Linked DNA regions of Homo sapiens: regions 2, 3 and 4 are each linked to region 1. The links come from fine-mapping of genetic effects on gene expression. A gene starts in region 1. Each other region holds a variant in brackets. All regions are shown on one strand. Distances are between the middles of the regions. Region 1 holds the start of SASH1 (SAM and SH3 domain containing 1). Region 2 overlaps SASH1 (SAM and SH3 domain containing 1). Region 3 overlaps SASH1 (SAM and SH3 domain containing 1). Region 4 has its middle 140 kb from the start of SASH1.

The links. PIP is the estimated chance that this variant, and not a neighbour inherited with it, causes the effect.
Region 2: its variant is fine-mapped to the expression of SASH1 in breast (GTEx, PIP 0.96). The same link has a PIP of 0.9 or more in subcutaneous fat.
Region 3: its variant is fine-mapped to the expression of SASH1 in whole blood (TOPMed, PIP above 0.99). The same link has a PIP of 0.9 or more in blood mononuclear cells and monocytes.
Region 4: its variant is fine-mapped to the expression of SASH1 in whole blood (INTERVAL, PIP 0.92).

What each region holds. Positions count from the first base shown.
Region 1 is chr6:148,339,119-148,347,226 of GRCh38, reverse strand. SASH1 (SAM and SH3 domain containing 1) reads right to left here and starts at 4,389. Exons shown (of 20, transcript NM_015278.5): 1 at 4,004-4,389. The coding sequence starts at 4,159. RefSeq lists enhancers at 1-314, 5,163-5,742.
Region 2 is chr6:148,503,507-148,511,614 of GRCh38, reverse strand. All of the region lies in intron 8 of SASH1 (SAM and SH3 domain containing 1), which reads right to left. Among named protein-coding and RNA genes, the nearest start is that of SASH1, 160 kb to the right of the region's middle. The variant C/T (reference allele first, on the strand shown) is at 3,600.
Region 3 is chr6:148,376,730-148,384,837 of GRCh38, reverse strand. All of the region lies in intron 1 of SASH1 (SAM and SH3 domain containing 1), which reads right to left. Among named protein-coding and RNA genes, the nearest start is that of SASH1, 38 kb to the right of the region's middle. The variant T/G (reference allele first, on the strand shown) is at 3,130.
Region 4 is chr6:148,202,374-148,210,481 of GRCh38, reverse strand. It overlaps a transcript of SASH1 not described here. Among named protein-coding and RNA genes, the nearest start is that of SASH1, 140 kb to the left of the region's middle. The variant G/A (reference allele first, on the strand shown) is at 4,820.

The DNA of each region.
Region 1 (8,108 bases):
AACAAGTAGATTTAAAGGCTTCTAAGGCTTTGCCTTAGAAGTCCTCAAATCCTGTAGGCAGAAGCTGAAGAACCATCACAATTTACCAAATGGATAAATCAGTTCTGAAAAAAGGATCTACCACACCTAACTGTATCAACAACCTTAGCAATTCCCGCTCTTAAAAACAACTTCCCTCCCCTACCTAAAAAAAGGAATGCCGTGTCTGCCAACTATGGAGTAAAGAAAAAAGGGTAAAATTCCACAGGATTCTAACTCAGTTTTGCACTTCTCAATAGAAGTCTACACATGTCACAGGGAGAAGTGACATGCTTTGAAAACCCTGGCCTACCACATGTCGTGGTGTTAGTGAACAGAATGGCACATTTCACAAGAACGCCAAGGTTTAATAGCTCAGGGCTTATAAACATGTTGCAGTTTACCATTAGTTTCCAGTGGAAGCACTGGGATTTTAATTTGCACGATGAAACTGCCCAAAATGCAGTTTCAGCCAGAGCAGAATGTATTCACATCTTTATAAATGTAACCCATTACATTACAGCAGGCACATGTGTCTTGACAGAACAATGCTTTGATGTGACTCCTGCATTTAAGAAATACATACTTTTCCCCTTTTTCTTTCAACAAAGCCATGTTCTCAGCACCCAGTTAAGTCAGGAGCACTGGAGATAGAAAAATGAGTAAGACACTGACCCTGCCCTCCAGGCACTCACAATCTAGTTAATTTTTTTTTTTTTTTGCAAGCTTGTTTTCTCTTAATTCTATATCCATTTATATATTCACTTATTAGCATTTATTTATTCTAGTACTGCTCAAACATTTTCATGCCGTAAATTATACTATTATTTCTTTTCTAAATGAGCACTTTGTTAACAATTATCTGAAAGCAACTATTTGGTGCTTAACTGTGCATGGACTGAATTAATCTAAATGCAAAATGTGTCCTAATGAACTCAAACAACCATCCTGTATTTACTGAGATCCATGACTCTGGGGCAATACTTTCACTGGGTTATAACCAACAAAATCCCCTGGGGGACAACTGCTCAATATTGCTCATTCACCTAAAAATGTTTTCACTTACTAAGCTGTGAGTTTTGTCATTTCAAAGTTCCACATACAGTATTGATAAGCTGTGTGGTTTGATTTCCACAATTAGAATAATCTGAAAAAGTAAGGTAGAACTGTGTCTGAAATCTGTTAAGGATAATGTTCAGATGTGTAATTTCCCAACTACCTCTACTGTCCTCTTCAAGTTCAGTACGGAAAAAGAATCTTGTAAGTCACATTTTACCTAAAACACACAGGATTTCTAAATGTACTGAACTACATTTCTACTGAATTCATCTGAGAGTTAACTATGGAGCGTCATGACATCAGGATCCCTACTGGAGGGGCCAGCGACCAGGGACAAGTCTAACATTGTCACTAACATGGTATGTGCCATTGGCCAAGTCACTTCACCTGTCTAGATTGATAGATGATTGCAAAATCTTATATTTTAAATAAAAAAGGAAGGAAATGGTGTCTCTTGTTTCAGTGAGAATAAAGTCAACTGTTAATTTTGTGTCTTGATGTATTTCCCCGAAGACTCAGTTTGTATAAACACTTGGATGACAGCTTTCCCTCCCTTTTAGCCTGGTGTCTCCCTGCAAGACATCTACAAAGGAGCAGTAAGCCATGTCTTCCTCTGAATTTTACTAAGGAACAATCTCCATGCCTGTTTACCCCAGATAAACAAGAGGAAAACATGAGCAAACACAACCTGTCTGGGACAGGCTTTACGTTCTTCCCAGCCTGATCCTGAATGATTAGCTGAAGTACATATTTTCTTTGCTCCTGCATCTGCCCTTTCAATAGCAGGTTTGAGCTTCTGAAGCCCCACCCCATCTTTTAACTCAGCCAAAGAACACTCCACTACAACTGACCCAACAGTGCTGGAATCTGTCAGGGAAGGGAAAGCAAATCTGCAGAAAATGCCACTGGCCAACCCTCTTCCCCAAAAGAACCCTCAGCCCAAGTTTCATTTAAACAGGCCCCCAATCCTCCCCGCCCCCAGCCCAACGCCCTAGAGTAAGGGATACAATGGGATATTATCAAACCAATTTCCTCAGTGACTGAAAACTTAGAACTGGATCTAGACAAGAAATAACAGGATAACTTAAAAACAGTCTATCGGGCGCGGTGGCTCACGCCTGTAATCCCAGCACTTTGGGAGGCCGAGGTGGGCAGATCACAAGGTCAGGAGTTCGAGACCAGCCTGGCTAACATGGTGAAACCCCGTCTCTACTAAAAATACAAAAATCAGCCGGGTGTGGTGTTGCGCGCCTGTAATCCCAGCTACTCAGGAGGCTGAGGCAGGAAAATTGCTTGAACTCAGGAGGCGGAGGTTGCAGTGAGCTGAGCTCGTGCCACTGCACCCCAGCCTGGGCGACGGAGCAAGACTTCGTCTCAAAAAAAAAAAAAAAAAAGAAAAGAAAAAGTTTATCACAACTTTAAAATGTCCATTAGGTTTTCTGGAACTTCAGTGAAGGATCATATTCATCTGTATACTTCAGAAAATGCAAAAACAAAACCTTTTAAATCTAAAATATATATTAGATTTAGGTATATTATATACATGTGCTATATATAGTATGTAAATATACATTGCATGCATATTTATATACATTTTTCAATACTGGAGAGTGACAAGAGCAGATAGAAATCTTTAACCAACGCTCGCTGGTTCTCTGTATAGTAAGAATCATAAATACCAATGGTCACCTGAAAATGGAGTAACTGGGCTTTTAGGATGTCCAGAAGGAAGAGACAGGAGACTTTGCAGGAAACAAATAAAACCTGAAAGACAGCTACACTTATTGAGCCTCTACTATATGCTATACAGTCTGCTGAGTACTTGATACACACATCAACCCAGCTAAATCTCAGAAACCCCAAGAAGCAAGTCTTCTTTTCTTCAATTTTCAGGTGATGAAACTGAGGATCAGAGAGGTTGAATGACTTGGCCAAGATCATGTAAACAGTCAATTGGAGAGCTGGCATTTGACCTAGTATAACTTACTTTGAAGCCCAAGAGTTTAATCACTGTGCTAAAAACTGTACACGGTTTATCATTCCCAAAGAAGAACTTTCACTCCATCTCCTCCCACTCAAAAAATATAAGATCTCAAAGCAAATCTAGAGACTTTTCTGATAATCTGCACATCTGGCCATTCCAAGTCTTTAAACTAAAGTTGTCTTTTATGTATGGATTAAGATGTCTGACTGTAATAAACCTCGCCCATCTGATTCCAGTCTACCTGCCTAACTACAGCTCCACCAAAGCAAATCTATTACTTCCCCAAGGTATTCAACCCTGAGCAGGTTAAAACTTCACCCTCCATACAGAAGAACTGCTTCCCAGAGACTATGCCAAATCCAGGGGCGCTTTTAGTCACTGGACATTTCAAAATACATGACAGCACAGATTTAGCAAAATAAGTCCTATTGTTTTAGCCCCAAACATATAAAACAAATATCCTGTAACTCCACAAATTGAAAAACTGCAAAAAAAAGTAGGCAAACATTTTGGCAGTTCTGAGTAAGGAAATGTTTGTTTTCCCTCTTGTGGTCACACAACAAATGGTGAAGAGATAAACATCAGTAACATCAGCCTTTTCCCTAATCCAGCACCAACCAAATATTTATTTACATCTACTTTTTGAAGGCCTCTTTCTCGCCTTTTCCACACCAACATGTCAGCAGGTGTCCCAGATTAAACTGTTGAATATCATACCCGATTGTTTAAAAAACACCTTTTGACGGGACCTGTGGCTGGTTATTTTTTAATTAGGGTTTGAAATCCTATACTGTGTGTATTTAGCCCCCTAAGAACTAGAGCCAGAGAAGGACGCCTCTGCGGAGTGGGTTGCCCAGTGGGTGGGCGAGAAGGGAGCCCCCGGTTTCAGAGGGGCTGCTGCGAACTGTACTTCCTGCGCCGCCCCCTCCCCAGGTAACTTACCAGGATACCCATCACGTCGGTCCAGAGTCGGGAGAACGCCTCGGATGTGCCAGCACCCGGCTTGGGCTCCGGTTCCGGCTCCGGCGCGGGCTCGGGCTCCGGCTCGGGCTCGGGCTCAGGCTCCGGCCCCGGGCCAGCTGCTCCCGCGTCCTCCATGGCCGTGTCCCGCGCGCGGGCCGTGCGTCCCAGTCCCCGCGGCGCCCTCGCCCCGCACCCGCGCGCAGCCTGCCCGGATGCCGGGTCCCCGCCCGCGGCGTCACCGAGCCGCGCCCCCGCGCTGCATGCCCCGGCGGCCCCGGCCACCCCGCGGGGGCCCTTCGCAGGCGCCCGCACCTCGGGTCTAGGTGGCCACGGGCTGCGCGACTGACAACTCCAGAAACTTTCCCACCCCGCTCGGCGCAGCAACAGGGTAGCAGGAGGCAAAGTCCGCACCACTGAGTTGTACGGCGGGGAATTCGCTCGGCCCAGAAGCAATTAAACCCACTGCAAAGGCGTTTCTTCCTGTGACGGGAACCAACTAACTAAGGCACGCGACTCGTTCCTTCTAGCAAGTCTTGGCAGGACCCGGCAGGGGTGGCCGCGGAGCCTCTAGATCTTGGAGGGAGCTCCCCGGGACCCCTCTCTTCAAAATGAGCTCTTCCAGCTCCACATGACTCTCTCCCTCGAGGCTAAAGAAAGCGTTTAGCAACAAAAGGTGCTCTGATGTCAGGCTCTTTGCATGGAAATGAGCCTCGGACAGGAGAACAAATCGCCTGTTGAAAGAGCAGCCGCGCCGCGGTCTCCGGCCCGCACAAGTTTCCAATCACGCTATTCACGGAAACGCTTTTGGTAACGGAAACCCGAGAAAGTTAATCTTTAAGCGACTCCCGCCCAAAGGCTTCACAAGTAGTCCGTGTCGCTACAATGCATACCTCGCCCCTCGTGAAGTCAAGCGACCCAAGGAATTACAAATCCTGCCTCTGCCAGCCAAGACTTCTCTGCAAAACAAGTGTGAAAGCTTGGGCACGAGCCATTGTTTGGATCATTTTTTATGAGTGGGGGCATTTTGGCTCCTGAATGCCCACAATGCCATGCATTGCTAGGGCTTTCGGCTAATTAAGGGAAATGCGCTTTGGGTTTTAATTATTCCTTTACATTAGGGACACAGGGAAGGGCTATTTTCGAAACTAAATTCAAATGATTGTGTAGCCAGTCAGCCTACACACACTTGGGGCCCTGTGTGTGTTTTTCCAAGGGGAAGCCCCAGGACAGATTTATTTTATAAGGGAACTAGCCCTGGAGAGGTGATTTTTCCCTTTTGTGATTCTATCTTTCAAGACTACTCAGAGTTTTCCTTGGAAGGTGACAATGCACGTCACATTCGATTTGGTGATTGATCACTTTTGAAACAGTTAAGAAACCACATGGAGTTTGCTCCTCTGTTAGGGCCTTGTGGTTTAAAAGGAAAAAAAAAAGTGAGATGCCCCAGGGAGAGAGCCCTGCTTGTTTTGAGGCCTCTCCTGTTTCTTGTTGATTGTGGGGTTTTTTTTGTTTGTTTGTTTGTTTTGTTTTGTTTTGTTTTGTTTTCCTTCTGAGTCCACTTGAAAGGGGATAAGAGCATGTCCTTGAATTCCCCTTGTTCAAGTATTAAGTGCTGTGAGCACCAATCAATGCAATGGGTGAATAGTCCTTACAGGAAAGTTCAAAATGTAAAAACATTTTCAAAAGTAACTAAATTTATAAACACAATCCCTGATAATTTTTGTGTGTTTTTGGCGGGTGCGGGGCTGGCGCCTGTAATCCCAGCACTTTGGGAGGCTGAGGCGGGCGAATCACTTGAGGCCAGGATTTTGAGAACAGCCTGGTCAACACAGCAAAACCCTGTCTCTACTAAAAATACAAAAAAAAAAAAAACAAAAAAAAAAAACAAAACATAGCAAGAGTGTTGGAACATGCCTGTAATCCCAGCTACTCAGGAGGCTGAGGCAGGAGAATAGCTTGAACCCAGGAGGCGAAGGTTACAGTGAGGTCCTGCTGCTGCACTCCAGCCTGGGTGACAGAGGAAGACTCTCTGTCTCCAAAGAAAAAAAAAGTATGCTGAAAAATTTTTTTAGAGACAAGGTCCTGCTCTCTCACCCCGGCAGTGCAGTGCTGCAATCGTAGCTCACTGCGGCCTTGAACTCCTGGGCTCAAGCAATCCTCCTGCCTCAACCACCTGAGTAGCAGGGACTACAGGCACACCGCTGCACCAGACTAATTTTTTAAATTTTTTATAGAGACATGATCTCTTGCTGTTGCCCAAGGTGGTCTCAAACTCCTGGACTCAAGGGATCCTCCCTCCTTGGTCTCCTCAAGTGCTGGGATTATAGGCATGAGCCACTGCGCACAGTCTCTGACGATAATGTTTGTGAAAGGAAACCAAAAGAATTATTAAATTTCTCCTTAATAGCATTGAGGCATTGTGTTGAAGTAGAAAGAGCACTGAACTATGAGTCAGTACAGCCAGGTCTTGTGCTTTCCTAGGCTGATGCCGGAGTTAGGCCAGATGGGTTTTCAAGGCTCCCTCGTGCTCTGTGATACTTTGAATAAAAATAAATTCAGTTAAGGCTGATGAGGTTTTTTTAATTGTCATTTCTATAAATAGATAAATATAAGTAAATGATAGGAAAAGATAAATAGCCTTTACAGTTGACTGTATTGGTATATTTAAGAATTTGAATTTATTCACCACGTGATACTTTTTTTTTTTTTTTTGAGACAGAGTCTTGCTCTGTCACCCTGTCGCCCAGGCTGGAGTGCAGTGGCACCATCTTGGTTCACTGCAACCTCTGCCTCCCAGGTTCAAGCGATTCTCCTGCATCAGCCTCCTGAGTAGCTGGGATTACAGGCATGCACCACCACGCCTGGCTAATTTTTGTATTTTTAGTAGAGACGGGGTTTCACCATATTGGTCAGGCTGGTCTCGAACTCCTGACCTCATGATCCACCCGCCTCAGCCTCCCAAAGTGCTGGGATTACAGGCATGAGCCACCGTGCCTGGCCTGGTACTTTCTTAAATTTAAGAAGATGCAGAGGACTGTGCTGCTTCCAAGGGGCAGCCTGTTCTCTACATAAACACTTTCCAGCAAATAACTCAGCAAGGAGCCAGGCAAGCCGGGCAGTTGGGGCTGGGGTTAGGATGAAGCCTGACTCTCCAGCACCAATCCAGAATCATTTTCTTCTTGACTCATCAGATGACCTGGGGCAAAGCATTTGACCTGGTGCTAGTTTCCCCATCCAAGATGAGGCAAGGCCATACTAATGGCCACCTGCTTCTTCACAGGTTATAGTATGTTTCAGGGTCATCTAAAGACACGTACAGTTTAGTGACAACACATACCCGCATCAGTGTAATTAAACGGGCCGGGCATGGTGGCTCATGCCTGTAATCTCAGCACTTTGGGAGACTGAGGCAGGCACATCACTTGAGGCCAGGAGTTCGAGACCAGCCTGGCCAACATGACAAAACCCCATCTCTACTAAAAATATAAAACTTAGCCAGGCATGGTGGCACACACCTGTAGTCCCAGCTACTTGGGAGGCTGAGACAGGAGAATCGCTTAAACCTGGGAAGTGGAGGTTGCAGTGAGCCACTGCACTCAGCCTGGACGACAGAGCGAGACTCCATCTCAAAAAATACATCTATATAGATATTTATATAGATATCTATATTTATAATTATATATCTATATATATACACACACATATAATTAAACCTTAGCCAGCATTTTGGCACTTATAGAAATCAACCTATTCTAGATATTTAAGCTGTTTTTCCTGGTGCTTCTTAATCAATGGATAGGGAAATGAGATAATGTTTTGGGAGAAATGTTGATGCCTATACATAGAATGTGAAATTTGAGGCCAGGCATGGTTACTCATTCCTGTAATCCCAGCACTTTGGGAGGCCGAGGCAGAAGGATCATCTGAGGTCAGCAGTTTGAGACCATCCTGGCCAACATGGTGAAACCTCGTCTCTACTAGAAATACAAAAATTAGCTGGGCATGGCAGCATGTGGCCTGTAGTCCCAGCTACTTTCTACTTATCAATTTCCATGTGTTAACTCAACATGATCTGATTACCACT
Region 2 (8,108 bases), 160 kb before region 1:
TTATTTTTGAGAAACACACCTTTGAATTATACCTTTGAATTATACTTCTTTGTACCTTTGAATTAATGCTATTTTTATTTTTCTAGAAAAATCAAGATTTGGAGGTGTTTGTCACTGACAAATCACAAACCATGGCAACCAAGTCCTTCTTTTCCATGATCATTTTTTGGACGCTAGACAAGATAGATGCGGCACAATTTATACGAAGAAAAATGCAATATAAAATCCAGGTCATCCAAGGTGTGTGTGTGTGTGTGTGTGTGTGTGTGTGTGTGTGTGTGTGTGTGTGTAATAGAAAATTAACCTAGAAGTCAGCCTAGAAGTTACTTGAGTTCAACAACCTATCCCAAGAATGTATTGCTGCATCCATGATATTGATGGAGAGGTGTTGACTTCTCACTTCCTACTGAGTCCAGAGGAAAAAAGCGTTGTGAAATATTTGCCTTTAAAAAATTCTCTCCAGCTGTTTTAACACAAAAACGCTGTAAAAGGCTTGCATTTCTTCTAAACTGGAGAGTAAATCTTGAATTCCTCATGTCATATTTCTCTTTTTAAGTATATTCCACTTCCCAAATGCTGAAAATAACACAGCATGTCTTTCTTTTTTTTTTTTTTTTTTGAGATGGAGTCTCGCTCTGTCTCCCAGGCTGGGGTGCAGTGGTGCGATCTCAGCTCACTGCAACCTCTGCGTCCTGAGTTCAAGCGATTCTCCAGCCTCAGCCTCCCGAGTAGCTGGGATTACAGGCACACACCACCATACCCAGCTAATTTTTGTATTTTTGTAGAGATGGCATTTCGCCATGTTGGCCAGGCTGGTCTTGAACTCCTGACTCTCAGGTAATCTGCCCGCCTCAGCCTCTCAAAGTGCTGGGATTACAGGCATGAACCACCATGGCTGGCCAGCATGTCTTTTTATTCAGGAAATACACCACCAGGGATGGGGGCTTGAGAATTTTTATATTTATAAACATAAAAAATATATAATTTTTAAATTCAAATACTATGTATATTTTAAAAGAAATCTTCCTATGTGAAAAACTTCGTAGAAGATAGAGGAAATCTGCATTGTATATAAAATAAATGACTGATTCTAAGAAATAGGTTCAGCACTGTTATAGAACAGGTTTTAAACTAAAGTTAAAAAATAAAAGTATATATTCACACACATTCAAACATGAGATAGTGTGGCCTCCCCTCCCTTGTCCCACCCTGGGTCAGAGTTAAACAGATCATCTTCTCAGTGAGAAGGTGAACTCAATCATCTGTATGACAGCTCCTCACCAGAAAACCTTCAAGAGAAAAAGGCAACTTATCCCACCAAAAATTGTGGAAAAGTGGATTTCCAATATTGTAAACAGAAACATTTGATTTCCAGCCTCTCCTCTGCAGATTTTTTTCCAGCAGAAAGCCCATATGGCTCAACTTTTAATTACTTTGGCTAATGCTATATGTAGTAATTCTGTGGTGAATGCTTAAGTGTTTCATTTCTGGTTTCCATAGCAACATTACATCAGATTGCAGACAGCTGGCTCCACAGTTTTAAACCATAACAAATTGACCAAGCCAAGACACAAAACTATAGCTGCTTTAAAGAGATAGCACACCATTTGCCGGCCAGGCCACTGAATGAGGAACCTATGGGGCCCGTCTGGCACCCGGAGGAGGGTGGAGCCTCCTTCCTTCCCAGCTTCTTTTGGAACAAGTGCATCCTTGACACATCTGCAATGTTCTAATAGGAAAGACATGGAGCCAGCGTGGAGAACTTTTTATAACACAGCTACACGCTGGATGATCAGAAAAAAGGAACAAAATGAATAGCATCTGTGAGTACAAACATTTGTGTGCCGGAGCTCACTAAATGCATCCTCTCCCTGCTCCAAGTAAACCTGTCACTGCTGGTCGGTAACAGATACTTCACCGGACCCTGTAACAAACAGTTCTTGGGACTGCAGTGTGCAGAACAAATCCTTTCCAAAAGCCATATGGCACAGTTGTGCAAGCACAATGGCAATATGCTGTAATAAAGGTTAAAACCAATTTGCAAGGAGCAACTAGACCCTTTGGAGGACCGCTTGAGACCACCACGCTGATCACAGGATTACAACTGTGCCCTCTGCAGAAGCACTTTCACTCAGCTTGTTTCCCTAGCTCGAAACACACGACACGCTGTCACAATTAACACCCAGACTAAGCCCACTCATCTCCCCCAGCGCCACGTAACACCGAGAGATATTTAAACATTTCTGAAAAGCAATTTGAAACTGGAAATGTACTTGCCTGTGAAATTCACACACTGGTCTCTCTAACCTAGCGCATGATTAGACATACATACTTCAGCTTTCTAGGTCGGCTGTGTCACAGCGTTAATCTTAAACTTAAGAGAAGGAAGCCAATCAGATATAAGCTTATGAAAAGCAATGTGCAACACTGTCTGAATTCAAGTCCTCCCCAGGAAAAGCCTCCACAATTCACAGCTGAGCCATATATGCTCATTGTCTCAAATTCTCAAAACAATACTCACTATTCTCTAAAAGTTACGCATTTTCACTGGTGAAAATGCCAGGCAAAAATGCTCAGGGTTACCAGGTAGGGAAGTAAACAGGCGAAGAAGGACAAATCTAGAGGAATTTAAGAAGAAAAGAGAGAGAAACATCATAGGCAGGAGCAGCAAAAACTTTTACTTGAAGCAACAGAAAACACATTCTTTCTTTCCCATTGAACGCATTCAGTGACTTACCGGCTTCGGCATTTAGCAAGCCTAAGGGGTAATTCTGAAGACGTCCTGTACCTCCCACCCCCCTCCCCACTCGGAGAGCGTCTTCACTCTTGTAGCATCAAACTCCGCAATCTCAAAATTAAGATTAGGCACTCCTGGAACATGTCTCTCTGGAGTTACATGATCAGGCAGGCTCCACCGTCACAGCTCAGTATCCGAAGGAGAAAGGGGAAGACACTGGATTCAATTAGCTTCTTTCTGCTTGCTGACTGATTCCCCAGTCGCTTGCTAACTGCATAACTCGCAAGAAAGGCATAAGTCATCAGCTCTAAGCAAATCTCCTATTCACCACAAGGAAAAAAGGGAGTGTTGTGCATGGCCAACAATCCCTGTTTTCACTGAGGAAGGCTCCCTGACCTCCTGCTGGCCTCCAGTTCCTTAATTACTGTCTATGGAATTCCAGAGACAGAAAAAAGAACGCGAGAATCTGAGCAAATCCAGGACAAGGAGGACAAGGACTAACCCTTAAAAGTGACTGAACTTAAAAAAAGATCTCTTTTTCAGACATTCTTCTGAACACCCCCTTAAGGGAGCAGTCTCAATTGAAAATAGACACCTTCCAATGGCTATTTTTGAAATTACTGAATTAAAACTTATGATTGTGGTTTTCTCCTAGAGTTGTCACTTTCTCTCTCTCTCCCCATTCCTTTTTAAAATTTTAACAACCAGGGTAAATGTAGGATATTTCCCCTTCATTGGTGCTTCTAAAGCTCTCTTAACAAATTGTTTTAATGCCCATTTCAGAGCATCCGAGTTCTCCTGCATTCTAGAAACGTGAGCATGAGGACCGTGTCACAAGATGATTATTTAATTTTCTCAAGGA[C/T]CTCAGGGGAGCCACTAGGCACATGCTGTTACTTAAAAAGAACATCATCTAAACAACACAGGACTAAAAACCCACACAAAGTCTCCATGACGTGGGCTGCAAGTCACGTTTGTCTTTTCAGGGCTAAGTTCATTCACTTGGGTAAGTCATTTATTCTCACAGCACAATGTGAGTTGCTTGTTTCTAGATGTCCCTCCTGTTGGGTGAGTCTTCATGTATAATGCTCTTTATAGGACATCACACGACATAAAATACCTAGCTACACAGGACTCAGGGATGCGTAGGAACCACTGTCCCTCCTTAAAATGGCAGAAGTTTAGAGTTGGACAGGATTCAGAGGTTACCTAAACTAAAAACGGCCAGGCACAGTGGCTCACGCCTGTAATTCCAACGGAGGCGGGCAGATCACTTGAGGCCAGGAGTTCGAGACCAGCCTGGGAAACATGGTGAAAACCCGTCTCTACTAAAACTACAAAACTTAGTCAGGCGTGGTGGCATACACCGGTAATCCCAGCTACTCAGGAGGCTGGGATAGGAGGATAAATTGAGTCCGGGAGGCAGAGGCTGCAGTGAGCCAAGATCGCCTGACTGCACTCCAGCTTGGGCGACAGAGCGAGACTCCATCTCAAACAACAACAACAACAACAACAACAACAAAAGGGAATTGGAATACGAAGCTCCCAAGTGGAGGGTCATGTTTTACCACGCACACATTGCGGGTTCTGCATCAGATCACCAGAGCTCCATCCCCTTTTCCTCGGCTCTTGTCCTGCTCTTCTTCCCTGGGCGGGCTGGCGTCTCTCACTCCTTGCCAAGAATTAAACTCCCTTCTCCCACTCTGTCTTCTGCTCAGAAGTATCTCCTCCCAACCTTTATTGAATTTCCTCTTCTTTCTCCTGCAAGGGTTCACCACACCTTCCCTACACTGCCCAATTCCCCATTTCACAAACTGATTCTCCCACAAACTCCCCTTCCCCTGCCACCATCTGACGGACCAGGTGCTTTTGCGATGTTGTACTTCCAACACTTGTATTTGTCCAAAGCTTAGCATTCCCAGGCACTGTGCTAAACATTTGCATACAGACCCCATTTCACAGCAATGGCAGGGGCAGAATCTGAGACTGTATGGTTTTGCTCCTGTGCCACTACCCTACCTCAACAAGACCTTTCTTCATCCAAGACTGACAACTATGCTGCAAAGTTATGCTCACAGTTCCTTAAAACTGAGTGTAGACATTTTCCACCAAATTCCTTCGTTACAGGATAAAAACGAAGAAAATGAGAGTGCCCCAGTGAGACTGGGGTAAAGGGAAGAGGATTAGCCCAAGGTCTCAGGGGTTAGAAAAACCTGGGTTTAATTACCAAGTTCTCTAGCAAATCACTTTACTTTTATGGGTCTTAATATTCCTGCACATAAATGTGGTATAGTAGCACTTTTCTTACGTTGTGGTTGTATTAAATACTGCGTACCTGAAATCCTTACTGAACTGGAGTTCAATAAGGACTTAATATTTTTACTATTACTATTAATATTATTATTTGAGATGGAGTTTTGCTCTGTTGCCCAGGCTGGAGTACAATGGCTTGGTCTCAGCTCACTGCAACCTCCACCTCCCGGGTTCAAGCAATCCTCCTGCCTCAGTCTCCCAAGTAGCTGGGATTACAGGCACCCGCCAGTATGCCCAGCTAATTTTTGTATTTTTAGTAGAGATGGGGTTTCACCATGTTGGCCAGGCTAGTCTCAAAACTCCTAACCTCAGATGATCTGCCTGCCTTGGCCTCCCAAAGTGCTGGGACTACAGGCGTGAGCCACCAAGCCCAGCCTTATTATTAACTCTGCAGTCTTCTATTCATAACTCACTGGAGTTCAAATAACACCTAATTTTCACAAACTGTTCTTTTAGGTGCTGTGTAAATAGCAAAGACCACTTAAAAACCCAACAACCAGGCCGGGCGTGGTGGCTCACGCCTGTAATCCCAGCACTTTGGGAGGCCGAGGTGGGCAGATCACGAGCTCAGGAGATCGAGACCATCCTGGCTAACACAGTGAAACCCCGTCTCTACTAAAAATACAGAAATTAGCTGGGCGCGGTGGCTCACACCTGTAATCCCAGCACTTTGGGAAGCCAAGGTGGGCGGATCACGAGGTCAGGAGTTCGAGACCAGCCTGAACAACATGGTGAAACCCCGTCTCTACTAAAAATACAGAAATTAGCCATGTGTGGTGGCACATGCCTGTAATCCCAGCTACCCAGGGGGCTGAAGCAGGAGAATTGCTTGAACCTGGGAGGCAGAGGTTGCAGTGAGCTGAGATCATGCCACTGCACGCCTGGGTGACAGAGCGACACTCTATCTCCAAAAAGAAAAAAGAAAAAAAAAAACAACAACAAAAAAACCCAACAACCAGCCAGGCACAGTGGCTCATGCCTGTAATCCCAGCACTTTGGGAGGCCAAGGCAGGCAGATCACTTGAGGCCAGGAGTTCAAGACCAGCCTGGCCAACATGGTGAAACATGGTCTCTACTAAAAATACAAAAATTAGTCAGGCATAGTGCACATCTGTAATCCCAGCTACTCAGGAGGCTGAGACACAAGAATCGCTTGAACCTGGGAGGCAGTGGCTGCACTGAGCCGAAATCGTGCCACTGCACTCCAGCCTGGGTGACAGAGCAAGACTCCATCTCAAAAAACAAAAACAGAAAAAACCAACAACCTTTTTACGTGTGAAAGCTTGTCATATGGCCAGCATCTGAGGCTGGTTCTGGACAGGCTGTTCAGATATAGAGAAGACTCTGAGCCAATGCAGGTTCAGATCCCCTCTGTGCCACATGGGAAGAGCCTGTGGCTGTGGGCATGTTTCTTCTCTCATTTCTAAGATAGGCAGTGAGAAGCCTCCTAGGGCTCTCTAGAGGATAAAATGAGACCTTGAATGTGAAGTCTAGAGCTTGGCAGGTAAGGAAGCCCTCGTTCCATGTGAAATACACATGAAGTTCATGCACTGATTTATCCAGATACTTTGGGGAGGGTGGCGGGAAGGATACATCCCCAGTACTTCCCCTGAGCGGCCTCTCCTCACAGCACAGGACTTGGAGAGTGTCCTAAGAGGATGGGAGAGAGAGCCGACCTTGTCCACCCCTTTTTAACCTCACTGCCACGCCTCTCAGGGAGTCATTCAGGTATTTATCAAGATACTCGATGTTGGGCCCTTTGTGAGGACGTACCATGGCTTGACTTTCAGAAAACAGGAGGCTCCCCGGGCCAGGAGCCTTGTCTGATCTCCTGCTCCTTGCATTCCTAGTGCCCACCCATAAATACTGGTGCGATCACTGTGGAATGAAGAAGTTGAGACTCCCCAGCCCTGTGGCTCTCAGCCCTGGCCATGTGTCAGAGTAAACTGGGGGATATTTGGAAGACTAGACTGAGCCAGGCCACCCTAGGAAGCTCCCTGGTGAGGGACAGATTGGGAGATAGACTTTGTGAGGGAAGGCCACTGCTGGTCCTGTTCTCTGGGTGGCGGGCTTGAACACAGTAGATGTGCAAATTTGCTGAGAAGGGACTTCAGTATTTGACTCCTATGGTGAGGAATTGGTCCTCATTAGCTCCTTGGAACAAGGTCCAAAGGCCTTATAGTGGAATATGTGACTGTGTGCGGTCAGATTCAGTTTCTGGTACATTGTGCTCCACTCTTCAGATACCACGTGGTAGAAAGGGCACCAGAGCACCCGGTCTCACCCCCTGCTTCCTTGCAGCATCTCAAACACCCCATGCCCATCACTGCCCTGATGGCTCATCTTCTGCAAACAGCTCTGCTGATTGCATCCACACCCCTAACTCCTATGCATCCTTCAAGTTTCAGTCTGCATATTGCCTCCTCTGGAAAGCTCTCCTGGCTTTGCTCCTCATCTACCTTAGACTAAAGATACTTTATCCAAGGACTTCACACATATATTGGCATTGCTAGATTCCCTAGCCCATCACTAACTGTCATGCAGACAATGTACATGACCATATTCATTTCCACATCTGTATGTTAGTAGCATTTATTGTTTCTGACTACACATGACATATATTATTAAAAATTTGGAGAATGCAAAAATGCACAAAGTAGTAAGAGAAATGACGTATCATCCCATACTCAGAAAACTTGGTAATATTTTGGTTTATGCCTTCCCACTTTTTCCCCATACACACACATATGCACATGCACACACAAAATACACCCTGATGTTTCTGTATGTTTCTTTTTTTTTTTTTTACAAGAAAGGGTTATCTTTGATCTTTACCTCCTCCAACTCCTCTAGTCACTATCAGTGTCCCCAAATCCTCCCTCAAATGCACACGCACAGTCTAAGTAGAAATAACACATTTGCCTGTAAGTGGGGACCTTCTCTGGGTCACGGCTGCCTCAAAAGATTTTCCTTTAGAGAAACCCCAGGCCCCTGGTGTGCACCGTAGCCACACTGTTTCATAGCCCATTTTTTAAAGCTGTATGTTTTGAATATTTTCGCA
Region 3 (8,108 bases), 38 kb before region 1:
TATGATGTTGATGGTATGGCATATACTTATTCCCAAACTCATCGAATTGTATACATTCAAAATGCACAGCTTTTCACTTATCAAGCATACCTCAATAAAGCAGTTTTTAAAAAGCCATGCTCTTTCAGGACTGACAGTGTTTGCATTATTTTTATTCAGCTTATTCCTTGAGATAGCTACAGACCTACTCCATAAAAATATTTAATTTTACTAAAAATACTTGCAACATGAGTCTGCAGGAAATTTAAATAATGTAGATGAGGTTTCCATAGGATCGCATGCTGCCATCTTTACGGAAACACAAAATCTACGTCTGACTCAACACCCCACCATACTAATGTCAAGCACTGATGTTGCAAAATAAACTTGTAACTATAATAAGACTTAAAATCATCTCTACATTTATTATAATAAATATCATGATTAAAACACTGAAACGGATTCTTTTTTAAACCTTTTCTTTTAAGGTGTTCAAAAGTTTCTGGTCTGGAGTTTATTGCTTGCCTCATCTGTTTCACTTCTTTCTTATTTTCCCTCTTTGGTTCTCTGGCATTAAACTTAAGCAATATTAGTTCAAGTTTAGGAACATGGGAAAACGTTATTTCCTCAAAATAATTTTTTGAGAAAATTGTGAAATTTTGAGTCACGCGATCTTTTTATAAGAATTTTCCCACCCCTGTCTTTGAAAACAGGAAAAGAGATACATGCAGATTCAAGTTCTCTTTCCTTTTCTTCTCATAGAACCTGGTCACAGCATCTGTCCATATGTATGACAATCCATTTCACTTGCTGAAGATTTAAATTAAATCTGTGGAGTCATCACCCGTGTCAGCTCAACGGACAACAAACTTGTATAATCTTCCCCCAAAGCCACAGAGCATCTTTGTCCCAAACACCCGTCTTTCATACAACCAACATAAAAATACAGAGATAAGGGGCATTGTACCGAGCAGTTCAGATTGGGTGGACTGCTGTTGCAATTAAGGAGAAAAGACACAGAGCACTGTTTCCTCAACAATCGGTTTCACAGTATTTCTGAGATTTATCCCAATTCACTTCTGTCTCTGGAAAATGGAAAACCTAAAACTACTAGGAAAACAAAAGGCATTTGTATCGTTACTTTTGTTATTTCTGCGCTTCTTTCCCCAGATGTCACTTCCAGTTTAGAATAAGTTGACAGATTCAGGAGAGGAAAAAAATAAAAAGAAAAAAAAGCATCTGAAAACATCAGGAGATACAATGTGATCTGTTGCATGCAGATTGTATGCAAACGAATGTGTGATCCTCCTATTTTATGTATCTATAAAGTTTTCCCCAAGGGAAAACTCATGTGTGTTGCTCTAACTCCCCAAAGTTGAGAGAAAGACAGACTGCTGACTCCTTTATTGTTTCTTTACCTTTTCCGTCCTTAATAATAAGTACATATATTTTTATATAACATAAATTCTGTTATATTTACATTGCTCCTTGTTTGAAGAGGGATGGATGGAGATATATACATCCCCTCTAAGCTAAATCCATTAAAAAAAGAAATCACTATGGTACAATGAAACCTAACTGATTTTTTGAATGACTTCCCAAGGTGTTTTCACCCTTAATTAGCTTGTTTAAAGATTTTTAAGGTGATAAACACTTTTAGCAACCTTTCAGGTGAAATTGCTACAACCATAAAAATGTCTTTAATTCTCGTTTTCTTGTTCGGCCTCATTGAATCCCTGTAATGTTACTGTTCTCACCAGCTCTGTCATCACTTCCTGCCACGTCGTCGTCGTTCTGCAGACATTCACTGACTGTAATAACTAATCTCAAATACTTTTCTGAGGTATCACTCCCAGTGTTTCTACAGATGGGTTGAGCTGGAAGTATACTTTGTCTCAGGAAAAAGTTTTAACGTGTAACGACATATGCCAGAGGGACGTATTAGGTCATGCAAATGGCAAGTGAAGCCCCCAGGGGCACACCCATAGGGCAGGTGGCTGGAGTGAGGCTTATTTCATACCTTCCATCCCCTCTCTCCAAAAACACCCAAAACCTGCCAGCACCCATGTCAAATCCTGGCTTTGGCATATACGGTCATGGTGATGCTATTGCGCACAGGTGGATCCCGGTTACCACAGATCCCCTCCTGAAGAATAAACGGCCTCCCAGAAGGCAGGATTGACAAACCCTCCTCCTCAGAGCTCTCTCAGCACCTGCTTCTAGGTCTCCAAATGTCTAAGGAAAAAAATAGCAGGAAAAAAAATTGGGGGGCCAGGCACGGTGGCTCATGCCTGTAATCCCAGCACTTTGGAAGGCCAAGGCAGGTGGATCACCTGAGGTCGGGAATTCGAGACCAGCCTGACCAACATGGAGAAACTCCGTCTCTACTAAAAATACAAAAATTAGCCAGGCGTGGTGGTGGGTGCCTGTAATCCCAGCTACTCAGGAGGCTGAGGCTGGAGAATCACTTGAACCCAGGAGGCGGAGGTTGCAGTGAGCCAAGATGGCACCATCGCACTCCAGCCTGGGTGACAGAGCGAGACCGTCACACTCTTCACAATGGACCTGCACACATGGCCGAGGACACAGAAGGCGGAGATCTGGCGGGCTCTGGAGCTGTTGTGGGTTCAGATGCTGTCTCATGCCAGCAAGGTAAGCCAGCAGATCAGTGACACCATGTGGAAGCTGCCACAATGCCTGGCATCCTACACCAACCTTCAGAGTCAAAAAAATATGCTGCTGATTCACTTCCAGCTCCCAAATCTCACACAAGGTGTCTTTTGTAAAGGTCGCTAACCCAGAACCATACCAGAAAGGGTGAACGCAGTACAATCCCCCACAGAGTCTTTGGATAAATTTAAACATTTGAGACTTGCATTTGTTTAAAGGATATCACATAGCATATTAGAAGAGCACAGAAGAGGCTGGGCACAGTGGCTCACACCTGTAATTCCAGCACTTTGGGGAGGCAGAGGTGGGTGAATCACTTGAGGTCAGGAGTTTGAGACCAGCCTGGCCAACCAAAATGGTGAAACCTCATCTCTACTAAAAAAATTACAAAACTTAGCTGGGCGTGGTGGTGCATGCCTGTAATCCCAGCTACTCAGGAAGCTGAGGCGAGAGAATCACTTGAGCCCAGGAGGTAGAGGC[T/G]GCAGTGAGCCAAGATTATTGCGCCACTGCACTCCAGCCTGGGCAGCAAAGCAAGACTCTGTCTCAAAAAAAAAAAAAAAAAAAAAAAAAAGAAAGCAAGAAAGGCACTGATGGAGTTCGCTTCCTAGGCAACAGCCATGGGGGCCCACACTGTCTCTATTTTAGAACCCCACTGCCTGTGAGTTTCCCTGTCACCATCCACCCCTCCTCCTCAGCACACCCTTACATGCAATGATTCCCCAAGGTCCTCTGCATTTTTCTCTTCTTACACTCCCTGCTCCCTTGGGGAAATGTCATCTGTGGTAGGACAGAGTTAAAGTCGCGGCAGAAACACTTTCCCTCTCCTCTACTTCCAACAGGCCCAGTGCAGCCTGCTTGACCCTAGGATTCGGCAGGCTTGAGACTGGTAGCAAAAATGTTATTACCAAAATCTTATGCATGAACTAGTCATCCCCAACTACCTACTGGGAAGAAATCTGAAAAGTTTAGTCTAAATATGAACAAACTCAGTTTCCTGGCCAGGCAGAGGAGCAGCTCTAATAAAAGAGATGACGAAGAAGGCCTACTCCACATCCCTCATGCGGAGTATATGCTAGCACCTCTGCACAGCACAGTGATTTTCACGTATGATGAAGAAACTGAGGAAAGCTGTCAACATTCGCCTGTGTTTATGCCCTTCAATCATCAACAGTTCACAGGATATTTCATTAATTCAAATAATATTTACTAAACATCTACTATATTCCGAGTGTTGTGCTAGGTATTAAGTATCCAATATAAAATCAAAAAACATGAATGTTTATTTCTACTGCACAGAAGAGCAAAGTGTGGCCATTAGTTTATTTTAATGCAGTCATACGGTTAAGTCATGAGAACTTGTTGAAGGGATTTACTAAGCTGTGTGCTTAATATTAGATCTCTTTGGAACGAAAGGCTCTGAAAAATCCAATCTGCTGGCTATCAGTGGCTCAAAAGAGTATTACACAAAAACCCTAAGAACTTGAAAATGTGGAGAAAAGAATGGGAACATTGATCATTGGTTTTTAGAAAGTACAAGCCTAGATTCAGACTCAAAATGGACATTTGGATTTAGCAGATGGCAGTTTTAGACTGAACTCATTTTCCATTTTTAATCTGCCCTGAGCTTAACAGAATCACAGATTTGAAAAGCAGCACAGATAATTGGGTGGGAATGAAGTCACAATTATAGACCACATTCACAGATCTTGATGAGCATGAATCACACTGGGTTTTCTCTGGCCGCCTTTTTGGCACACAAACGTGAGGCTGTGAACATTTTCAAGCATTTGACCAACAAGATCTGAATGTGATATGACCAGAATTTTAGAAATGAAAATATTGATCTCAGAACAATCTGAAATTTCTAGTACTATGGTTAAATGATGTACAATATTTGAGTTTTTGTGTTTTAGAAAAATTATAATCTGCCACAGCTTGACTAGAGAGCCTCGCGGTGTGACCGTCTGTGGTATGAGACTGAGCTTGACTCTGGCTGATTTCCTCACACAGCTCCCCGGCGCAACTGGTAAGTGAGACGCAGGAGTCCAGACAACTCAATCAAAACTGACTGACAACAGGCATGACGCTGGTAACCCTCTGCTTTTATACAGCTAAGGTTGAAGCAACTGTTTCTTGGTGCTATTGCCAAAACTCCACATTTTTAAGAACTGACAGGTAACAACTGAAAAATACTCTTTGTGTGGCACCTACGTTCCGCATCTCACAAATGGCTGCACACGATATCCAGGACTTGCTTTAAAATCCTGGGCCTGGGAGGGGTGGTGAGTGCAGATATAGATGGAACAAGATCAGCGGTGATGGAACATGGCAGCTCTTTAACATATGCTCCCCACTTGGTATACATCTGAAATTTCCCACTGTAAGGAGTTTTTAAAAGGTGACTTATTTGTTTACGTGTTTGTTGTTACCAGGCAACTTTAGAGTTTATGAAAACTGGGAATGGATCTTATTCATTTTTATAACCTCAATATCTAACATTATTGCAACACCCAACACTTAGCAGTTACGTAATAAATACTTATCAAATGAATGAACAGATGGATGGATGGATGGATGGATGGATTGATGGATGGATGGCAGTAAAGTTGATCCCTCTCTTTCCTGAGAGTGCCATAAAATTCACTCGGTAACTAGGAATTGACAGACTGCCCGCTAAACCAGCATTTTTATATATAATGGTGAGCTTCTAGTCACGATTCTTGTCCCTACTGACCTCACAAGAGTAATACAGTCTAATGAGACATTGATACATGAAATATATCATTAGAAACAATAACAAACGAAGATCTGAGGGAAGGGGGTAGGAAGAAGTTCCATACAGAGGGAATATCAAATGTAATTCCTCTGAGTCCAGAGAGAGAGCTTAACATGTTCCAAGAGGTAAAGCTACCCTGGGTGACTAAAAGGTCAGAATGCAGAGGTGTGGCAGGACAGGGGACTGGAGAGACAGGAAGAAACCCAGGTTTGGTGATTCCTCATGAATTCAATAGCCATAGATATTTAAGCAGGAATATAGAGGGCATGCACTTTGCTTTAAATAAAGTACGAAACTCGCTGTCATACACTTCAATGAAAACCAAACCACAGAGATTTTGAAAACTGTGACCCTGATTTCATTAACTTTGCACCCACACAAAAACCTCTCAACAGAACATACAGTTGGCACCTGTGAATTGATAGTGCCTTGTCCCTCACCAGCTAGAAAAACCAAACTAACAAATGGGGATATAATCCTAGAAGCTCATCCAGCCCTTGGCCAGCTCTGTTTCATTATATTTTTGTCCAGCTGTGAATCTTAATGCTGCTGACACCAATAAAGTGAACCATTAGCATGGTGTCTGCCTCTGTGATCCTTGACAGCAGACCCAGTCCCACCTCTGTCATGGAAGAGGCTGAACAGTGAAGACAAGATCTAAACCCACTGGGATGTTATTCCTCTTTACAGGTATGGCCACAGCCCAACAGGAAGAGAAAAGCTTCACAGAATAAGGGTGGCCTACATGAGAAAGAATTATCAACCAGGCACGGTGGCTCACGCTGATAATCACAGCACTTTAAGGCAGGCGGATCACTTGAGCCCAGGAGTTTGAGACCAACCTGAGCATCGTGGTCAAACCCCAGTTCTACCAAGAAAAATATATAAAAATTAGCGGGGCATGATGGCACACGCCTGCGGCCCCAGCTACTCAGGAAGCTGAGGTGGGAGGTTCAATTAAGCCAGGGAGGCAGAGGCTGCAGTGAGCCAACATCGTGCCACTGCACTCCAGCCTGGGCGACAGAGTGAGACCCTGTCTCAAAAAAAAAAAAAAATTGTGGCCGGGCTCAGTGGCTCATGCCTGTAATCCCAGGACTCTGGGAGGCTGAGGCGGGTGGATCACCTGAAGTTGGGAGTTTGAGACTAGCCTGGCCAACATGGTGAAACCCCGCCTTTACTGAAAATACAAAAAAATTAGCCAGGCATGGTGGCGCATGCCTGTAATCCCAGCTACTCCGGAGGCTGAGGCAGGAGAATCTCTTGAACCTGGTAGGCTGAGGTTGCAGTGAGCCAAGATTGCGCCACTGCACTCCAGCCTGGGTGACAAGAGCAAAACTCCGTCAAAAAAAAAAAAAAAAATTGTGGGTGACAGAGAACTCCAGTCAATGGAACAGGAAGTTTGGCATCTGAACCCTTCTCTCTTTCTCTGCTACTTACTGACCCAGAGTAAGGTAGTTAAATGTGTACGGCCTCATTTTCCTCATCTGTAAAATGGTAATTACAAAGCTACCCCACAGGCTGTAATAGGATTAAATAAAATACTTGTAAACCCTTGACAGATCATCTGGCATTCAATAAGCACTCATGAAATAGAAGTCCTCACTCCTCCAACAGGAAGGTTAAAATTTCTCCTATTATTTGATGGGACCAAGTTATATCACATGAGTGGCACAGAATTCCAACCTATTATAAAAATAAAGATCTAGAATTTCAATACAGGGAAGGGCCTTAAATATGATCTCATTTGATAACTTTATTTCAAAGATGAATTAAGAGTAACCAAAGACCACAGGGTTTTGAGTGACTTGTCCCAAAAGACAAGAAACCAAGCCTCCTAAATCAGAGTACAGGAATTATTGATTTCTAATTATTTACATTTATTGCTGATAATTTTTAACATGTTGAGAGTCAAAGATCTTCCTGAATCCAAAGATATTTCCCACACCAAAAGGAATAAATGGAAAGTTCCTGGGTTCAATGGGCTTAATTAAAGTCTCACAATCTTCTCATATCCTGACAGAAAAAAAGCAACTAAGATTTTAAAATAAAGATAGCCCATCTAGAAGGGCACTGAATACACAAGGAGCTTATCCAGAAAATCCTCAGCATTTTACTACCATCAGGGAGACCAGGAGGAATGCCACTGGTTCCCTCCACAGGTTTGAGTTTCATCTTTTGTGTTTTTTTTTGTTTGTTTGTTTGTTTTGTTTTTTTTTTGTTTTTTTTTTGTTTTTTTTTTTTTTGAGACGGAGTCTCGCTCTGTCGCCCAGGCTGGAGTGCAGTGGCGGGATCTCGGCTCACTGCAAGCTCCGCCTCCCGGGTTCACGCCATTCTCCTGCCTCAGCCTCCCAAGTAGCTGGGACTACAGGCGCCCGCCACTACGCCCGGCTAATTTTTTGTATTTTTAGTAGAGACGGGGTTTCACCGTTTTAGCCGGGATGGTCTCGATCTCCTGACCTCGTGATCCGCCCGCCTCGGCCTCCCAAAGTGCTGGGATTACAGGCGTGAGCCACCGCGCCCGGCCGAGTTTCATCTTTTGTTTTTAAAAACAGGATCTCATTCTGTCACCCAGGCTGGAATGCAGTGCTGCAACCACCGTTCACTGTAACCTCGAATTCCTGGGCTCAAGTGATCCTCCCTCCTAAGGCAGCCTCCCGAGTAGCTGGGACTACAGGTCACGCCA
Region 4 (8,108 bases), 140 kb after region 1:
GGCTCACTGCAACCTCCACCTCCTGGGTCCAAGCAATTCTCCTGCCTCAGCCTCCCAAGTAGCTGGGATTATAGGCATGTGCCACCATGTCCGGCTAGTTTTTGTATTTTTTTAGTAGAGACAGGGTTTCCCCATGTTGTTAGTCAGGCTGGTCTTGAACTCCTGACCTCAGGTAATCCGCCTACCTTGGCCTCCCAAAGTGCTGGAATTACAGGTGTGAGCCACCATGCCTGGTCTGTTTTTGCAGCATTTTCAATTAATCTCAGTTCCTTTATCTGTAAAAGGGGCATCAGCAGTCTTTACCACGTTGTGTGAAACATCCTGGTGACACAGTTGGCTTGGCCACTGTGAAAAGTCATAGCTCTTGGGTGGAGCATTACTGTAATATACTGCCAAAGGCCCTTTTCAGTGCTGATGTTTCATAATTTCAATATGTGGTCAAGCCATAAACGAAAATTATGTAGGGCTTTTGCTTACAATCTATGTTTTCCTTTCTGTCTGATGTTTAATTTTGCTATCTCTGGAAGACACATTGGGGAAAAAAAATACACTGTGTGTATGTGTTTCATTTGTCTTAGAGCACACTCTTTCTTTTTTGCCTATAACAGAGTAAAACCAAAGACAGTCTCCAAGAGTGATCACTATGACTAGAATCCTAGTAAGACAGGGGAAAGATCAGAGAGGAAAAGAAGCTGAAGTTAGATGCAACCGGAACAGCCAAGCTTGAAAGAGGGGAGGCATACGGGTTGAGGAGCCCTTCACCATTCTGAGAGGTGCTAAAATGCATTTCTCCCAGAGAGTACATGGATGCTGGATACAAAATCTGTTATTCCGGAGGCTTGAGATATAGAGAGGTAAGATGCTTGGTACAGCTGACAACGGGTGAGGACAAAGAGGGGAATAAAGATGTGTAAATTGCTCACACTTGGCCTGTGTGGCCCAGCATTTCTTCCAGGACTCAAGAACAGATGTACACTTGATTTAACCAAGCCCCACATACTTCTTCCCACAAGAAGAAAAACCCCTATGAATTTCTCTTCTCTGTTCATTCCCTCTTTATTTTATTCAATAGAACGTTAAATTTTGCCTGAGTAGAGGTACGCAGTCACATAGATGAGTCTGCTTCATCTCTTCTGATGGCAAGAGGCAGTATGTGGGAGATGAGAGCAAGAAGAAACAGCTTTTGATTAATATTTCAGTCACAGGACAGGAATTCAGCTATGATGAAGGTGTATTACGGAATAGCTGCCAGACAAATATATTTTGTCATTTCATCTTGAATCATCTGGCATCAGATTCACACTGAATCAAAATTCAGGTGATTTATAAAGGCACATTAAGTTCTATTAGTATTAATGGGAAATATGCATGTGTATCAATACATGCATTAGTGGAGACAGATTCCCTGAAGGGTTTTTGCTTTGGGGCGAAAGCTACTATTTGTGCCTTTTGCACAATGGAAGTAGAATTGTGCCTACTAAATAAGTGTTCAATATCGATGCCCAGCAGAAAAAGGCCTTATTTTTAAAGATGCAAATAAAACGGTATTTTATATTTGTAATTAAAGGTATTATAGCAAATGGCCACATCTTATTACTGCTATTTAGAATTTGTCATTTAGGATTTATTCTTATTAGTAACCGTATTCAGTCAGTTTCTATATAGTTGAAAGAGTAGTTGTTTGGTCCTTTATTCCCATGTCAAAGATGAAGAAATAGGCAAAGTTTGGCCTATTTGATTTATATAGAAAGGCATTCCAGAAGTAAAATAACAAACAGTGTCAGAAAAGACAGTTTCTCCAATTCACAAAACAAGAAAAAGCTAAACCTATCCCCTGTTCATTTTCTGGGGGCAGGGAAGCAAAAGTTTAAGTCAAGTGAGACGCAACAGAAATGCCATGATTTATTACACTTTTATCAATAATAATGATGTCAGCTGCTAAGCAAAGAAAAATCCAAAATGGCTTAACCTCCTAGGAGGTTTATTATTTCACAATAACAGTTCTGCTATGCTGTTAAGGACCCTGTCCCCTCTTCCTGTCCACCATCCAGAGGTCGTGCCTGTACTTCAAGGGTGACAAATGGCTGCTGTAGTTTCTGACTTCATTGTGAACCCAACAATGCCAATGGAGGGAGAAGGATCATGTCCTATGCATCTCTTTTTATCAGTAGGAATGTTTTCCGAATAGTCCTTTAGTAGACTTCCCTTAGCATCGCACTGGCCAGCATTAGGTCATGTTCCTCTTCCAAAATCATTAAGTGGCTAGAGAAGAGAAATTCCATGATTGGCTTAATCAGTTTTACCAACCCATCTCGCGAGCTCCATATCATGTTGCCGTCCTGAGCTTATGGTCTCCCAGAAGAGGCTGGGCACCACACCAAACGGGGGCTCAGCTGATGAGGAAGCAGGAAGAGGTGGGGCAGGAATGGATGGGTGGTCATCCACGTGTGTGCTCCACAAATGTGTGCCATTGCTGTGATCCTTAAAGGTCTGCTTAAATGCAGTCATGGTCTCTGAGGCCTCACTGGACTGATGAGAGAGCGCCAGGTTTTGTCATGAATTTAATTCAATACCATCAGATTCACAGACTTGAATACTAAAGTCTGGGGACTCAAGCCAGCTCAAGCACAGTTTCTGAGCTTAGCAGGTAAATGACAAATGACTGAGCAGACGGCTTACACTGAACCTGAATCTTGACTCTGACTCACAAATGTTTTAAAAGGGACAAAGAGGAGAATGTTCAGGAAATAAAATATTAATACAGTTTAGATGTTGGGTATTCTTGCATAACTGAAAAGCAGGGGCAAATGAATCCATCTCTTCATTCTGTCTGTGTCTGCGCCATCCCAACATCTCAAGGCAGCACATGGGGCTCCCGTATTCTCTTTGTGTGTCCTTCTGTCATACCTCCTCCCAGGGCCTTCTTTCACACTAAAGTGTAAACAACTAATAACAGCTTAAGTATCATCATTTCACTAATAAGCTTGGCTGTGTGGCATAATAGAACTGAGGGAAAGGGAAATAATTTTAGAACTGTTCGGGATGGAGATCTAGAAACTAAGAGGACAGTCATCAGTCTAACTCACAGCATCCAGAGCTGCCCCGTTCAGTGTGGTAGCCACTAGCCACATGAGTCTATAGAGTTTACATTTAAATGATTTAAAATGAAATAAAAGGAAGAATTTAGTTCCTAAGTCACACTGGCACATTACAAATGCTCAGTAGTTACTGCTCCTATTGGGTATACTGCGCTGGCAAATGCAGAGACTGGACATTTCCATCAGCATGGGAGGGGCCAGGGGACAGTGCTGCTCTGGAGGACATGGAAAATCAGGGTGGGACAGATAGTGCTGTTCCCAGGAAAACCCAATGTAATGGGATGCTTTGCCAATGCTTAATTTGGTTGGGAAGGTCTGGTTGGCTCATCCATTTTGGAGCAGTAGCCTGGAGAGGGGCCGGGTGTCAGTGGGTAGACAGTGAGCAAATAAAAAACTTTGAACAGAGGGGGCACATTTGTGCTAGGGATTGACCCAATTATTAACTCCACAGGGAACACTAGAGGACAAGGCTGAGGACAGCAAAATGCCTGGAGCTGGGTGGAACATGAACAAGCTGAATGTTTTTTAATGCATAATGTATTTATGTTAATTTGTGTGTGTGTGTGTGTGTGTGTGTGTGTGTGTGTGTGCTTTGAGATGGAGTCTCACTCTGTTGCTTAGGCTGGAGTGGAGTGGCACGGTCTTGGCTCACTGCAACCTCCACCTCCCAGGTTTAAGCGATTCTCCTGTCTCAGCCTCCTGAGTAGCTGGTATTTCAGGCACCTACCATCACCCCTGGCAAATTTTTGTATTTTTAGTAGAGATGGGGTTTCACCATGTTGGCCAGGTTGGTCTCAAACTCCTGACTTCGGGTGGTCCACCTGCCTTGGCCTCCTAAAGTGCTGGGATTACAGGCGTGAGCCACTGCACCTGGCCTGTTAATTTGTATTAATGTAAATTTTCTATTTATGGCAAGTTATATTGGCTTTATGCTAGTGACATTACATTTCTTAAATATACAGCTATCAAAATTTCAAAGGAAGTAAATTTGAAGAAAAATATTAGATGAAAACTAGTACTAGTGAAATGCAATATGGGATAAAGTTTCATATGATTTGCAAAAGACTGAGCTTTGAGAAACCCTGATTTAAGGCAACAAGATCCATTATGAAGGTATGTTTCTAGGTGGGGCTGACTTCTCCATCAGGTGCTCTAGGCATAGCACTGACAGCTGGCATGTTTCTAGGCTTAGTAGGTTAATGACAATACAGCAAGGGCCCATGAAAATGTATTAATACATTTTCTCTTTAATAGATTAAGTCAGGAAAAAAATAAATGGCAAAGAAAATCTTTTAATTATTTATCTTTATGCTGACATTTGTAAAGTGCAACTTTCTATATATATATTTTTACAGAGGAAGGGGTTCTTGAAGGCAAAAGTGCCTAAAGCCCATGAAAATCATAAGGCAGCCTATTCCTAGGCAAACCGGGAAGGAACCTCTGAGGCAATGGAATGCAAAAGGATAGAGCTCGCTCAGCTGCACCCACAGTGGGTAGGGGTGGAGATGCTGGATTTGAGCAGGAGGGCATCAGTACAATCAGAGAGCAATGCTCCATGTGTGCTTATCTGCTAAGTATGGCACAGGCTCAGGGCAGGTCAGCAGACAGGGTGCCCAGGGTTCAGTCCAGGCCCACCAGACAGCAGGGTTAGGATAGTTGGATTAGTCTCCACTTTTGTGATGACTACCTGTTGGTCAGAATTGATTGGGGAGTGGTGGTCA[G/A]AGCTGAGTCTTCAAGGTGAAGTTCTTCTGGGGACTAGGGAAAGGCAAGGTTGGGAAGGGCAGGATTTAGGGCATCCTCTATTAGGAAGACCTATTAGGACTACTTAGCACTGACATTATAGGGGTATAGAGACAAACACCTACTTGGCCTGAGTCAGGCCAATTATGATGATAAGAAACACAGAAGTGAGAACCAGAGACACACATAATGCAACCCCTAAATACAAAAAGGGACTTGGGAATGCTGGCAGATATTGCTTTTGGAAAAAAGAAGTTTATGAAAAAATTATCTAATGCACCCTGAAGGCAAAGGCTGATGGGCAACCAAGCGCAAGGCCCAGTTAAGGCTGACCCGAGACCTCTTGACAAGTTCTGGGACGACAGAGGTATAAGAACCATTTCAAGTCGAAGGAGAGTGGTTAAAGGCCAGGTATGCGGACCACTTCTATAAGATCTCATAGTTGCTCTCTTGTTGCCGAGCGAGGCGAATGACATTGATAAATCGCCCCATTATAACTGGTGATAAAAGCAGCAGGTACTTAAAGGACTGACCAATAGACATCTGAAAAGACAAATGACTGCTTGAAGATGACTGATACAAGTTGGAAATTAGCGATACCCATTGTGAGGAGAACAGGACAAAGCACGCTGGACAGAGATAATACCCCAATCTCCTGAATGCTCATTGATGTGGGTCACCTGACAGCCTTCTCGGAAAAAAGTCTTAATTACTAAAAACATATGTGAAAACACCCTGAGGACCATGATAGCTCATGCAAATGTAAGGTATTATTATGATTCAACCAACTGAAGTGTTGAAAATTAAAGCAATTTTATATACTTTCATTTGGGGCACAAGTTTTGGGGCATTCGGTTAGGACTTTTTTTTTTTACTAAATGGTCTGGATACTTACTATAGTGATGTGTAGAATCAGCATAAACAGTTTTTTTTGTTTGTATTTTTGTTTTTGAGAAGCAGTTTCACTCTCGTTGCCCAGTCTGGAGTGCAATGGCATGTTCTTGGCTCACTGCAACCTCCACCTCCTGGGTTCAAGCGATTCTCCTACCTCAGCCTCCTGAGTAGCTAGGATTACAGGTGCCTGCCACCATGCCTGGCTAATTTTTGTATTTTTAGTAGAAATGGGGTTTCACTACATTGGCCAGGCTGGTCTTGAACTCCTGACCTCAGGAGATCTGCCTGTCTTGGCCTCCCAAAGTGCTGGGATTACAGATGTGAGCCACTGCACCCAGCCAAGAATTTTATCTTTCAAAAACCTCCAACTTTTGGGGGAGACTCAGAATGACTATGCAATGAAAAAAGTCTTGCAGATAATTCTCCCCTGTGAAATTGGTCTCTTTTGTACTGTCGATTGTGGTGGTTTCTATACAGTAGCATCCAGCACCTATTCCGCAAACCACTTCCTTCTTAAACCTCAAGGGTTTCTGCAAACCGCATTCAAATGATCTGTAGAAAGCGTTACCCTACACTTTCCATTACATCAGAGCCTTGCCGAGCGGCCCGAGAGGGATTCATCAACTGCTGCTGTGTCCCCATGTGTCTGATTAGCCACAAACACATAATGAATGTGGTTCAGCAGTGTAGGAAGCCGCAGTGGAGAACTGCAGCAAAAATTCCCGGCAATTTTTCTGGCAGCTGTCATCAGTCAACAAAACCCAAACTGACACCTTCAGTTGCCAACAGTTTTGGGTAAAACACATGCATGTTCCCAAGGTACAAGGGCCACAGGTTGAGAGTAAGGTTAAACGATAGAGTTTCTCTACTGGATGGAATGGAAGAAGATAGCAAAGTGAGCTTTTGTGATATTAATAAAGAACCTAATGGATTAATGGAAGGGACTGCTATGTAGGTTTCTGGTGAGTAACCGGTGATGCTGTGAAAGCTACGTGTGGCATCCAATAGTTAGCCCATTTTTACTTCAAGAAAACTCATCCTCGTGCTCTGCAGCAGCTGCTACTGTTTGGATTATGAATAGTTATACGCCAGATGGTGTGGCAGAAAGGACTCACACATATTTTCACATGGACAAATATTATTATTCCAAAACATAAACACGTTAATATAAGTGTTTTTTCTCCTGGGAGAAATCCAGCCCCTGATCTCAGTTATAAGAAAATGACTCAGTCTGTATATGCAAAAATTACCTGCCAAGGTTATTATTGGAAGAAACCCACACCACAGCGTTCCCCAAGTTTTCCTTTCCTTATTTGTAGTCAGCTGCATTTAATGTGATAAAGGAGAAACAGAAAGGAAGGGAGGGAGAGAAGACGGGAGGATGGAAAAGAAGGAAGAGGAAGAGAGTGAATGAAGACACGAGGTAAGGAAGGGGAAAATCACTGTCCCTCCACCCCAGAATTCTCATAATGGTGACAGCAGTGTGTTGGCCTGGGAATTATAATGCCAAATACCTGGTGACCAAAACTAGAAGGCAAAGATGGAAAAGATGGAATCAGGCCATTTAGACACATCAGTGAAAGATTCTTCTGAAGCATACTTCCAGCTCTTTCTCTGATTTTATTTGGAATGTTTCAAGGACAAAGAGTCCATCACAGTCAAGTCAATATAGTTCTCATAACAATGTATCCAGATTTCCCATTTCTAAATTTTTCTTAATTTGGTCTTGTTACTTCTTGCTGTCATTTCAATTTTTCTATATTCTTTCTTTTCTGTTTTTTGTTTTTGTTTTTTTTTTGACACAGCCTTGCTCTGTTGCATAGGCTGGAGTGTAATGGCACAATCTCTGCTCACTGCAACCTCTGCCTACCGGGTTCAAGCGATTCTTGTGCCTCAGCCTCCTGAGTAGCTGAGATTACAGGCACATGCCACCATGCCTGCCTAGTTCTTGTATTTTTAGTAGAGACAGAATTTCGCCACGTTGGCCAGGCTGGTCTGGAACTCCTGACTCAGGTGATCTGCCTGCCTCGGCCTCCCAAAGTGCTGGGATTATAGGCATGAGCCACTGCTCCTCACCTTATATTCTTTCTTTCCCCAGAAATTCCTATAATAAGCTTTTCTTCACAAGAATCTTCCACTCTTGGTGCCAGACATTTTGTAATCAATCCTAAACCCTCCTTCTTTATCTCTCTTCCTGCTAAGCCTTGGTCATTGCCTTCCAAGACTTCTTGCCTAGTTTTCCAGCCTCCCGGCAGCCCTCCTGTCTCCTAGCAGGGTAGACCAGCCCACCAGGGCTCAGGGAGGGCAGACCTGGGGTGATGTGTGCAGGAGGAGATGGAAAGGATGAGTCCAGCTGCAGTCCTTGGATGTCTTTTC